2 separate regions of the Homo sapiens genome follow, and region 2 is linked to region 1. The links come from fine-mapping of genetic effects on gene expression. A gene starts in region 1. The other region holds a variant in brackets. All regions are shown on one strand. Distances are from middle to middle. Region 1 holds the start of SLC38A5 (solute carrier family 38 member 5). Region 2 overlaps ZNF81 (zinc finger protein 81).

The links. PIP is the estimated chance that this variant, and not a neighbour inherited with it, causes the effect. A credible set is the group of variants that fine-mapping cannot tell apart.
Region 2: its variant is the best candidate, but not a certain one, in a credible set for the expression of SLC38A5 in visceral fat (GTEx, PIP 0.55).

The regions. Positions count from the first base shown.
Region 1 is chrX:48,467,259-48,472,465 of GRCh38, forward strand. SLC38A5 (solute carrier family 38 member 5) reads right to left here and starts at 3,002. Exons shown (of 17, transcript NM_033518.4): 1 at 2,924-3,002; 2 at 2,077-2,178; 3 at 614-667; 4 at 452-527. The coding sequence starts at 666.
Region 2 is chrX:47,877,535-47,882,741 of GRCh38, forward strand. All of the region lies in intron 2 of ZNF81 (zinc finger protein 81), which reads left to right. Among named protein-coding and RNA genes, the nearest start is that of ZNF81, 43 kb to the left of the region's middle. RefSeq lists a cis regulatory region at 3,252-3,792. The variant G/A (reference allele first, on the strand shown) is at 2,122.

The DNA.
Region 1 (5,207 bases):
ATGGGGAGAGCTGGGAAGGGGGAAACTAGGACAAACTTTGGAGGGAGCAGCTGGAAGTGGAGAGGACCGGGGGAGGGTGAAGCAGCCACCAGAGGTAAAACAGCTGGGGAGGGGAGACGCTGCGGGTGGGGATAGGCTGAGGATGGGGAGTGCTGGAGGAGGAAGAACAGCTGGAGGAGAAAGGCAGGCCGGGAGGGGAGCAGCCAGGGAGGGCAGTCACTGGGCCGAAGAGCGGGTGGGGAGAAACAAGGCCAGGGAGAGAGCTGGAAAGGGCATATCTGGGGAAGAGGAGTATCTGGAGAGGGGAGCGACCAAGTAGTGTGTAGCTGTGCTGGGGAGATAGCTGGGCAGGGGAACAGCAGGGAGGAGGAGGAGTGGGGAAGAGGGAGCAGTGCGGGAGGAGATTAGCTGGGGAAGGTGCCACCAGGACAGATCCTGTGGGGCCACTCACATCCATGAACTGGACCGGCTTGCTCCCAGGAGCAGGACCACGACTGGGCAGGAAGCCCTCACGTTCTTGCCTGTAGCTGGATAGGGCAGGGAAATAGGGGCCGATAAGAGGGAAATCCTGACCCCTGATCCCTGAGCCCACCTCCTTGGACCCCTGACTCACCCCACAGCATCCGAAGGGAGGGCTCCATTCATCTTTGGATCCTGCAGTTCCATCCTGTGGGCAAAGAAATGGGGTGGGGGGATCAGAGATGGAACGAGCATGCTTCAAAGTGAGGGGAGCTGAAGAAGGGGGGAGGGGAGTCCCATAGAGACCGATGGAAAGACGGAGAAAGAGACAAGGCAGGGGAGCAGGAACAGACAGGGATAGAAATGGAGGCAGACTGACAGAGAAAGAGATGAGAGAGAGAGAAGAACAAAAATCAGAGAAGGAGAGAAGCCAACAGTTAGTTACTCAGAGAGACACAGAGAGAGCCAGTGAGAGAGAAATAGTGGGGAAGAGAGAGACAGAAAGCTACAGAGAGAGCCGGACCCCAGCGCAGATGAGCCGACCACGTGGAGAAGGGATAGCCTCTCCTCCCAGACCCCAGACTCACGCTGTCTCTCTTGCCATCTGTGTCTTTCATTCCCCGGTCCCCCGCGCCACCCCCTCTCCTTCCCTCCACCCTCACCGCGTGGCCAGGCGGCTCACTCCTTGCAGGGACACGTGTCGGCCTGGCTGCCCCACCCCTCCTAATGCCCTCACCCCCCTCCTTCCCGCCTGGGCCCCCAAGCCCGAGACCAGAGCTAATGCAACCTGTTGAGTGAGCTGAGGGTTGGGGACAGACTCGGAGACCCCTGCCCCAGACGCTGCAAACTGCTCTCTGCCACGACTCTGAATATCCTCACTAGAAGCCAAAGACAAGTGCCCGAACCGAGCCCCTTCCCAGGGACAGAAATGACCCAGGGACTCCCATTTGACCCCAATTCTAGGGCCTAGAGGTCTTTTCCAGGGCCCCTAGCAAGTCTTAAACACTCATCTTCTGGCAGAAGTCAATTTGGAGACACTGCCAGACTTGAGAAACTTCCTAGGTGTGGGGTGTGGGGTGTCTCAGGAACCTGGCCCGAGCCCTCATTTCCCTCCGGAGGAAGAGCTATTTCTGAGACCTTCATCAAAGACCCCCTCCCGTGGCCTACCGAGTTTCCTGGGGTGGGGGTGTCTCTGCAATCCCCACCCGAGCCTGGAGCCCCTGTCTTGTAGGTACAGCGTCTCTGAAGAAACCCCAGCTCCCTCCCGCGCTTACTCCTTGGGAAGGAGGTATCTCAGAAACCCCCATTCAAGGTCCCCATTAGAGCTCAAACTGGCTCAGGAAATCCTTTTCCCAAGTCCTGAATCCCGTTCCTGGGACAGGGAGGGTCTCAAGGAGTCCCATCCCCCACCACCAGCACCCTCCGGAGCCTCCCACCCACACCTGAATTCACTTCCTGGGATCAGGGTACAAAAAGGACCTCCCCATACACGCCATTCCATTCCCCACTAGTGCTAAAATGTCTCCAAGGAACCCCGAGCCCCCTCCCAGGACCCCTACTCATATCTCAGGCCCCCAGGAACACCATCCCCGCAGCCCACGCTCCCTCCTCACCTACCTGCTCCTCTCAGCTCCTGAAGTGGCCGCAACTCAGACTCAGGTTCGGGCACCCTCTCGGCTGCCTAGGCTCCTGCTCTGGAGCGGTACTTTTTTTTTTTTCCTGAGAAGAAATGTTAATTTTAATTTCGTTTCCCTCCTTCTGGCCCTGGGCGGGGGAAGAGGTGGAGAAGGGGCGCCCCCTATCTGGACCCACTTGGAGGGAGACAGCGGTTTGTTTGTGTGTTGATGGTGGGGGAAATGGCCTGAAAGATTGAGGGTGTAGACCCACAGCTAGAGAGAGTGACAGGCAGACAGAGGGGATGGACTCACAGAGCAGACGGACAGCAGGATGGGATGGATGGCAGAAAAAGGTGCAGAGAGGAGACAGAGAGAGAGTAGGAGAACTGAAGTTACAAAGAAAGCAGGCATGAGAAACAGCACAGGAACAGACAGACCACAGAAGGGACAGAAAGACAGATGGGCGGGAGGAGGGGATGCTAGGGGAGCTTGGAAGACAGGCAGAGACAGGGAGAAAGGGACACACAGGCAGACTCAGAAACAAACAGGTGGGTAGGGATAGGCTCGTGGAAACACCTGCAGAAAGGCAACAGGCAATTGGGCTCAGTCATAGACAGGAGACACAGGCTGGCCAAGAGGTGGGGGACAGAGCCAGACAGCTCCCCAAACAGAGGGTAGGACCAGACACACCAGCTCAGAGAGATGAAGGGGCAGAGAGAGTGGTTGAGGCAGAGAGACTCCTGGAGGGACAGGAGAAAAGAGGCAGAGAGAGGCAGATTCAGGCAGAGAGGCCTGGGGACAGCAGGGGAACAGGTGCAGGGGTAGTAGCCAGGCTATTCCAGGCAGACCTCAGGCAGACAGCCTAGGCACGAGAGGACCCTAGATCTTGGGGGCCCCCAGAGGGAGGCAGGGAGGGCATTTGTGGCTGGGTGGGGAATGTGGACTGTGAACTCACACTGTCCGCAAACTGGGCGGGCACTGTAGTCCTGGACCCCACCCCAAGCGTGGGGTGGGGCTTGTCCAAGCCCTGAGAAGTCCCACTATCTGTCTGTCCGTCTGTCTTCTATGGGAGTCCGTCTGTTCACTCCCCTCCAGGCATATGACAGGCATGCCTGTCCCAGGCAAGCCACGTGTCCGCTACAGGATGTCAGGCAGGGTGGACTTGGGGTCTGGGACCACCTCGACTGGGCTGCTTGAAGCCCAGGTGGACAAGAGGCCTCTGTCTGGGCCCCTCGCCCGCCTGCCCACCCCCGACAGGGAACACAGAATTCCCGGAAAGGCCAGGAGCTGGCTGGGGCTTCAAAGCTGGCCTAGATGCCCTCACCCCACCCACAGTTGGAGGAGGACAAGGGATGGGGCGTTTACTTCCCCACAGCGGGAGAGAGACTCCTGCACACTCAGGAATCGCAGCTACACAACAGGACCCATCACAGCCCCATCAAGGGGCTCAGATACGGGGGCCAACTCGCCATCACTCACAGAGGTGCACAAAGACTCACAGCCACACAAGAGAATAAAGACTGACAGACATGAACACACACAGACTCACCACTGCACGTTAAGAGCAATGGCTCATGGGACAGTCACACACGTGGCCACACAGAGTGACGATAGTCTTACAGCTATCAATACCGACAGGCTCAGAGCCGCTCACAGAGAGCACAGACTAACACAGGGATAGGCTTGTGCCGATTTCCAGACACTCGAGACTCCTGAACCTCACCGCCCGTGGACCCACAGCCATGCCAAAGACAATCAACAGGCAAATCACACACACAGATTCACAGCCACACACAGAGCACACAATTACACACAGCTGATGACATTGTGTGTGGGTCCTGGGTCTTTCCCACACACACGATCCAGGTTCAGATGGCCCTGGATCTGAACCTGAATCCAGGTTCAGATGACCCTGGAGGCAAACTTCCAGGTTCAAGCCCTAAAATGATATCTCTGTGTATGTGAACTTGAATGTGCACTTGTGACCACATGTAACCACATACAGCTCCAGTCACAGAGAGAGGCACTCATAGGCTGACATGATTTTTGTACAAACAGAAAAGCCATAGTCTCCTTCTCTCTCTCTCTCCTCTCTCTCTCTCTCTCACACACACACACACACACAACTGCATTTCAGCAAATGGCTGCACACAGCCGTGTACACACACAGCTAGTCACAAATCAAGTCAGAAAAGAAACATATAGGGAAAGCATATACCTGCACACAAACACAAAGCACAGGAATGCAGAGTACGCTTACTATCGTTGCAAAGAAAAAATCCAGAAACCACACTGAAAGCTACACAAGGAAAAAACAAGAGAACCAGATAGTACTCATACCATGGCACCAGAAGAAACACCCCGAGGGCACACATACCTGCAGCCACTCGCTAAGAAGAGACACAAATACAGCAGCAGACACACAAAGAAAGATACGTGCGCATAGATACACATATAGGAGGGACAAGTACTCTGACACACTTGTCACCCACGACCATTACAAAGGAGACAAACACCCAAGCAACACACACACACAACAACATATAGATGAACTGCACCGACAGACAGTACCAATGCACACGGTTGCCAAAAAAAAAAAAAAAAAAAAGGTATGAGTTGGGCCGGGTGCAGTGGTTCATGCCTGTAATCCCAGCACTTTGGGAGGCCAAGGTGAGTGAATCATGAGGTCAGTAGTTCGAGACCAGCCTGGCCAACGTGGCGAAACCCCGTCTCTACTAAAAATACAAAAAAAATTAGCTGGGCGTGGTGGCGGGTTCCTGTAATCCCAGCTACTCGGGAGGCTGAGGCAAGAGAATTGCTTGAACCTGGAAGGCGGAGGTTGCAGTGAGCCAAGATCGCGCCACTGCACTCCGGCCCAAGCGACAGAGTGAGACTCCATCTCAAAAAAAAAAAAAAAAAAAAGCACAAGTTTGGCAGGCGGCCATAGACAGAACGCAGCACCAGGCAAGTTACATAGGAAGACGCAGGCACAGCTCACATACGTGTGGCTGTGGCTGAGAACGGGCAGGTGAGATACACTCAGCATATTCACACACACGTGCGCACACACTCCTGCCCAACCTCCTCCAGCCTCTGTCTCCTTTCCTATCTACTCTGATTTCTCTCTCCCCT
Region 2 (5,207 bases), 590 kb before region 1:
TAGTATGCCCAGAACTCTGTATCGGGCGGCAAGATCAGCCTTACTGACACCATCTGTTTCGACTTTGGGGATGCCTCAGTTCTACAGCCATGGCCACATTGGTTTCTGGTCATGCCCACTGGTGAACTCAGGCTTTACTAGCACAGTAGCAACTTCTTATTTTTAAGATGTCCATTTTAAGCTGGCACATTTGCTGCTCATTTTCCTGATAGCATACCTTAAGTTGTTGCTTAGTTTTAAACATAAAAACGAGGGGAGTTTTCCAGGACAGTGTGAGCTGACCTAAAAAAATCTTGAATTCTTTGGGTCAGTTTCTCATTTCCTAGCATTATAGATCCAATACGGGGCAGTAAGAGCCCAATGCTAGTCAATGCCTCATCTGTGATTTCCCACAAGAGTTCGTCTCAGGCAGCTTACCAAGAGGGCTAACTATAGGCCTAATAACAGCAGCCAGGATCTACTGCAAAAAACCTCTGAGACCTTTTCCTGTTGCTTCTGAAGGGCTCTAAGGTTGGCATGATCGACTGTAGGAGGGGCCGAGCCGTGAACATCCCAGCTGTTGCCATTCTTCCTTAACAAACTTTACATCCCCTCCTGCCTGTCGTGCAACCAGACCAGCCAAAGTTCTGACCATTTTCCTGGTTTCTGTGCCTACCAGTCATGAATTTTCCTCTTTTTGTCTTGAGTGTAGATGCTCTTTTCTGTAACTATTGTCTGCAAAAGGGTTGGGAACTGCACCTCCACCCCTCCCACCAATGATTCTCAATACTGGTTGTTACTAAGGGTAGAAGGGGACAGAGGGACCAGGCATGGAGTGAGATGGTGCGGCGCCATGCCAGTAAGCAAGTCTTCCCATTTACTTTCAGTTTCAAGCAATGCAGCAGCTGCTCAGGACTCAACCTAGTGAACCTCTCATGTTTTCAGTATGCCCAGACCTCTGTATCAGGCATTCCCCTCAATGACATCCCCCGATTGGGGGGAACCTGAGACTGACCATCACATTGGTGAGGAAGTCCTCCACCTGGATGAGAGTTTGGAATAACTAGGAGACTCTTTAAACCTACTTCCTGGCACTTAGTGTGTAAGAATTTCCCCAGTTCCTCCTCAATGACAAGCAATAAAGTGGAGGACCATTTATTGCACAGTTGACCATACAATTTAGTCAACATATTCACTGCTGATTCACCTTAAATCCTCTTAATTGCCCCATATATTAGTTTTCTATCACTGCTGTAACAAATTGCCACGAACTTGGTGGCTTAAAATAACAGAAGTTTGTTATCCTATAGTTCTGTAGTTCAGAAGTCCAAAATGGTTCTCACTGGTCTAAATTAATCAAGATGGCAAGGCTGATTCCTTCCTCAAGGCTCTAAGGAAAATTCCATTTCTTTGCCCTTTCCAGCCTCTAGAGGCCACCCATATTCCTTGGCTTGTGGCTGCTTCCTCCATCTTCAAAGCCAGCAACAGTGAGTCCAGTTCTTCTCACATTGGGTCACTCTAACCTTCTCTTCTTCCTCACTCTTCTTCTTTTAAGGATCCTTGTGGCTACATTGGCCCCACCTAGATGATACATGATAATTTCAGTATTTTAGGTCTGCTGATTTAAAACCTTAATACCGTATGCAACCTTAATTTCCTTTTGCTATGTAGTATAATATATTCACAGGTTCCAGGGATTAGACGATGGACATCCATGGCAGGGAGTTTGGGGGATTATTTTTTCCTTCCAGGGGTCGACAAGGCCCTCATCTTTCCTTTTCCAGAAAGCTACATCTCTGTGAGTGGCCAATCCTAATCACCAGAACTTCAAGAACTGTGAAGAGTCTGAGATATTACCCTACTTGCAAGATAAAAACCCAGCACAGTATCATGGATGCTGGCAAAAAATACAAGACTCCTCAGTAAGAGATAAAGGACTTTATAATACTTGTGGTAGCCGGAGTGTTAGCAGTTGTGCTGCTTCTCTAAGCCTCAGTTTCCACAAGGCAATGCAGAGGGCTAGATGATACCTGCACATACAGTGGGTTCCATTATATGAGAGAAAGCCTAAGTTTATGGACTCCAGATCTTTTATAATGGGCAATAAATCTGCCTCTCCTTTGTCCTGAAGGGAGAAATTAC[G/A]TTTAGTATAATTTCTAGTATAACCTGCCCTTTGTTCTGGAGGGAGACTCTGTCTTCCAGGGCTGCTTGCTGTATTAACAGGCTTGAAAAGATAAGTTGGAAAAAAGGCAGTCAGTGAGTCTGCTTTCAAGATGTGCAGAGACCTGTGGAGAGCCATCTCCCAACAGCCTCTCAAGTCCCTTTTAATCTATGGCAAATCTCCCAGATTCTCCTCTCTCTTGTTTTTCTCCTTGCTATTTATTTGTTGAAGAAACTGGGCCATTTGCCCTGTGCTATGTCCCACATTTTGGAATTTGCTAATTGTATTCTTGTGGTGTTATTTAACGTGTTCCTGTATCTTTATATTAATATGAACTGATGAATCTAGAGGCTTGATCAATTCAGATTTAATTTTTTTGGGCAAGAATACTTCATAGGTGGTGTTGAACACACTTGCTAATTCATCCCTCCAGGAGGCACATAATACCAAATATGTCTGTGTGTTCAGGGGTTCTCAGCCTGGTCCATACATTATAAAATTTCTGCAGTCTTTCACTCAGTAGTTTCAGCAGCCATTGATGATCAGTGCTTTCTTTTGAGACAGGGTCTTACTCTGTCATCCAGGCTGGAGTGCAGTGATGCATCACAGCTCATTGCAGCCTCGACCTCCCAAGCTCAGGTTATTCTCCCACCTCAGCCTCCCAAGTAGCTGGGACTACAGGTGTGCACTACCATGCCTGGTTAATTTTTTGTATTTTTTGTACAGATGGGTTTTTGCCATGTTGCCCAGGCTGGTCTCAAATGCCTGGGCTGAAGCGATCTACCCACCTTGGCCTCCCAAAGTGCTGGAATTACAGGCATGAGTCACTGCACCTGGCCTCGTGATCATTGCTTTTATTAGCATTTCTCAGCTGGAATTCTTCTGTAAAGAATAAATTTCCAAAATCAATTATTTGTGTACCCTGAAATGAAGTACTTGTGGGTGGGATAATAATTTTAATATAAAACTCAGTAATACCTCTTTCTTGATATATAAAACACTTCATTGGCAAACTGTTACTTAAAAGAATTCATGCTATTTCCATGATCAGACTCCAGCATACTTACCTGAATGTTTTTCTCATAATCACCTCCCTAATTGTCTTACTTCCATTTTCTGTTGCTTATAACAGAATACCTGAAACTGGGTAATTTATAAAGAAAAGGAATTTATTTCTTACAGTTATGGAGGCTGAGAAGTCCTAGGTCAAGGGACCACATCTGGTGAGGGCCTTCTCATTGGTGGGGACTCTGCAGGGTCCTGAGGTGGTGCAGGGTATCACATGGCTAGGGGATTGAGTGTGCTAGCTCAGTCTCTCTTCCTCTTCTTAGAAAGCCACAAGTTCCATTCCTGTGATAACCCCTTAATCTATGAATGGACTAATCCATTTTGGAGGGTGTGGAGTCCTAATTAGGGAAAAGGAGTTGGGCTAGTGGGACTGAAGGAAACAAAAAGATAAAGCAGATAAGCTACAAGTCTGCCTTTCTTCATGGTCCAGGACACATAGCCCTCCTGCACAAATAACTCGCAATCTTCCTGCTCCCAACTATTACCAGGCCTTCAGCTGATGTTATCAGTACTGCACAAAGCCCTCTTCAGCATACATCATAAACACCATTCTATAAAATCCCCAGCAAGCCTTTCTTTCCTTGCAGTTAGCTCCTCTCTTGCTGGTCTGCCCATTGCACCCTTGCAACATATTTTCCTACTTTCTCTAACAAATCTGCCTTTCTTCACCTACAACTGTCTTGGTAAATTCTTCTTACCCCTGTGCCACCGGCCCCAGATAGTCGCTGCCTACCTATGACAGAGGGGACAGATATTCAAACCATAGGACTGACATATAAATAGTATTCTCTCTTTTTTACAGAGCTGTTTGCTCTTTACTTAATTCACCATGTATTTTCCTGTTTCCACACTATTTTCCTTGTCTCTTCTGGAAAGTATTTCCCCCACTTATCTTTTCAATTAATTTTTTTCCCCAAGAGCCAATTTAAACTGCACCAACTTTATGGAACCTAAACTTACATCCCCAGTAGAATTGACTGTTTTCTATTTGGGGCCCACGGTGTACCCTGAATATATTTCAATATATTTATTTTATTTTATTTTATTTTTAGAGTCAGGGTCTCACTCTGTCACTCAGGCTTGGAATGCAGTGGTGCATCCATAGATCACTGTAACCTCAAACTCCTGGGCTCAAACGATCCTCCCTCCTCAGCCTTCCAGGCAACTGGGACTACAGGCTTATATCACCATGCCTGGCTAATTTTTAATTTTTTTTTAGAGGTGGGGTCTCACTGTGTTGCCCAGCCTAGTCTCAAGCTTCTGGCCTCAAGCGATCCTCCCAAAGTGCTGGGATTATAGGCATGAATATGTTTCTAACATGCCCTTTTGTTTTTTGTGGTTTTTGAAATTGAGTCATATTTGAAATATACTGAATTGCCCAGATCTTAAATGTATAGTTTGATGAGTTTTGACAAGTATATGTGTGTGTATATATATATGTACATATATATACACACCCATATACACACATATATGTACATATATATACACATCCATGCAAATTAAAATATAGAAAGTTCCCTCTTGACCAGTCAGTATTCTCCCCTTGAGGCAACAACCATTGTTAAGGTTTTAAATCCCTGTAGATTAAAATTCTTGATTGTCCTGTCTTTGTAATGGAATCAAACCATCTGTGTCTGACTTCAGTGTTTGGCTTCTGTTTGTAAAATAGCATAATGCTTCTGAGATTCTTCCAGGTTGTTGTGTCTATCCGTGGATTTTTCCTTTTTTGTTGCTGAGTATTCCATTGTATGAAGACACCACAATTTGTGTAGACATTCATGTGTTGATGAACATTTAGAATGTGTCTAGTTTCTGATTATCATGAATCAAGCCTGCTATGGGCATTCTTATATAAGTTTTCTGAGGATGTATGTTTTAATTTCTTTTTAGTAACTACTAAGAAATGGAATTGCTAAATTATATGGTAGGTATATGTTTAACTTTATTAGAAATTGTCAAACAAGGTCTGGCACAGTGGCTCAGGCCTGTAATCCCA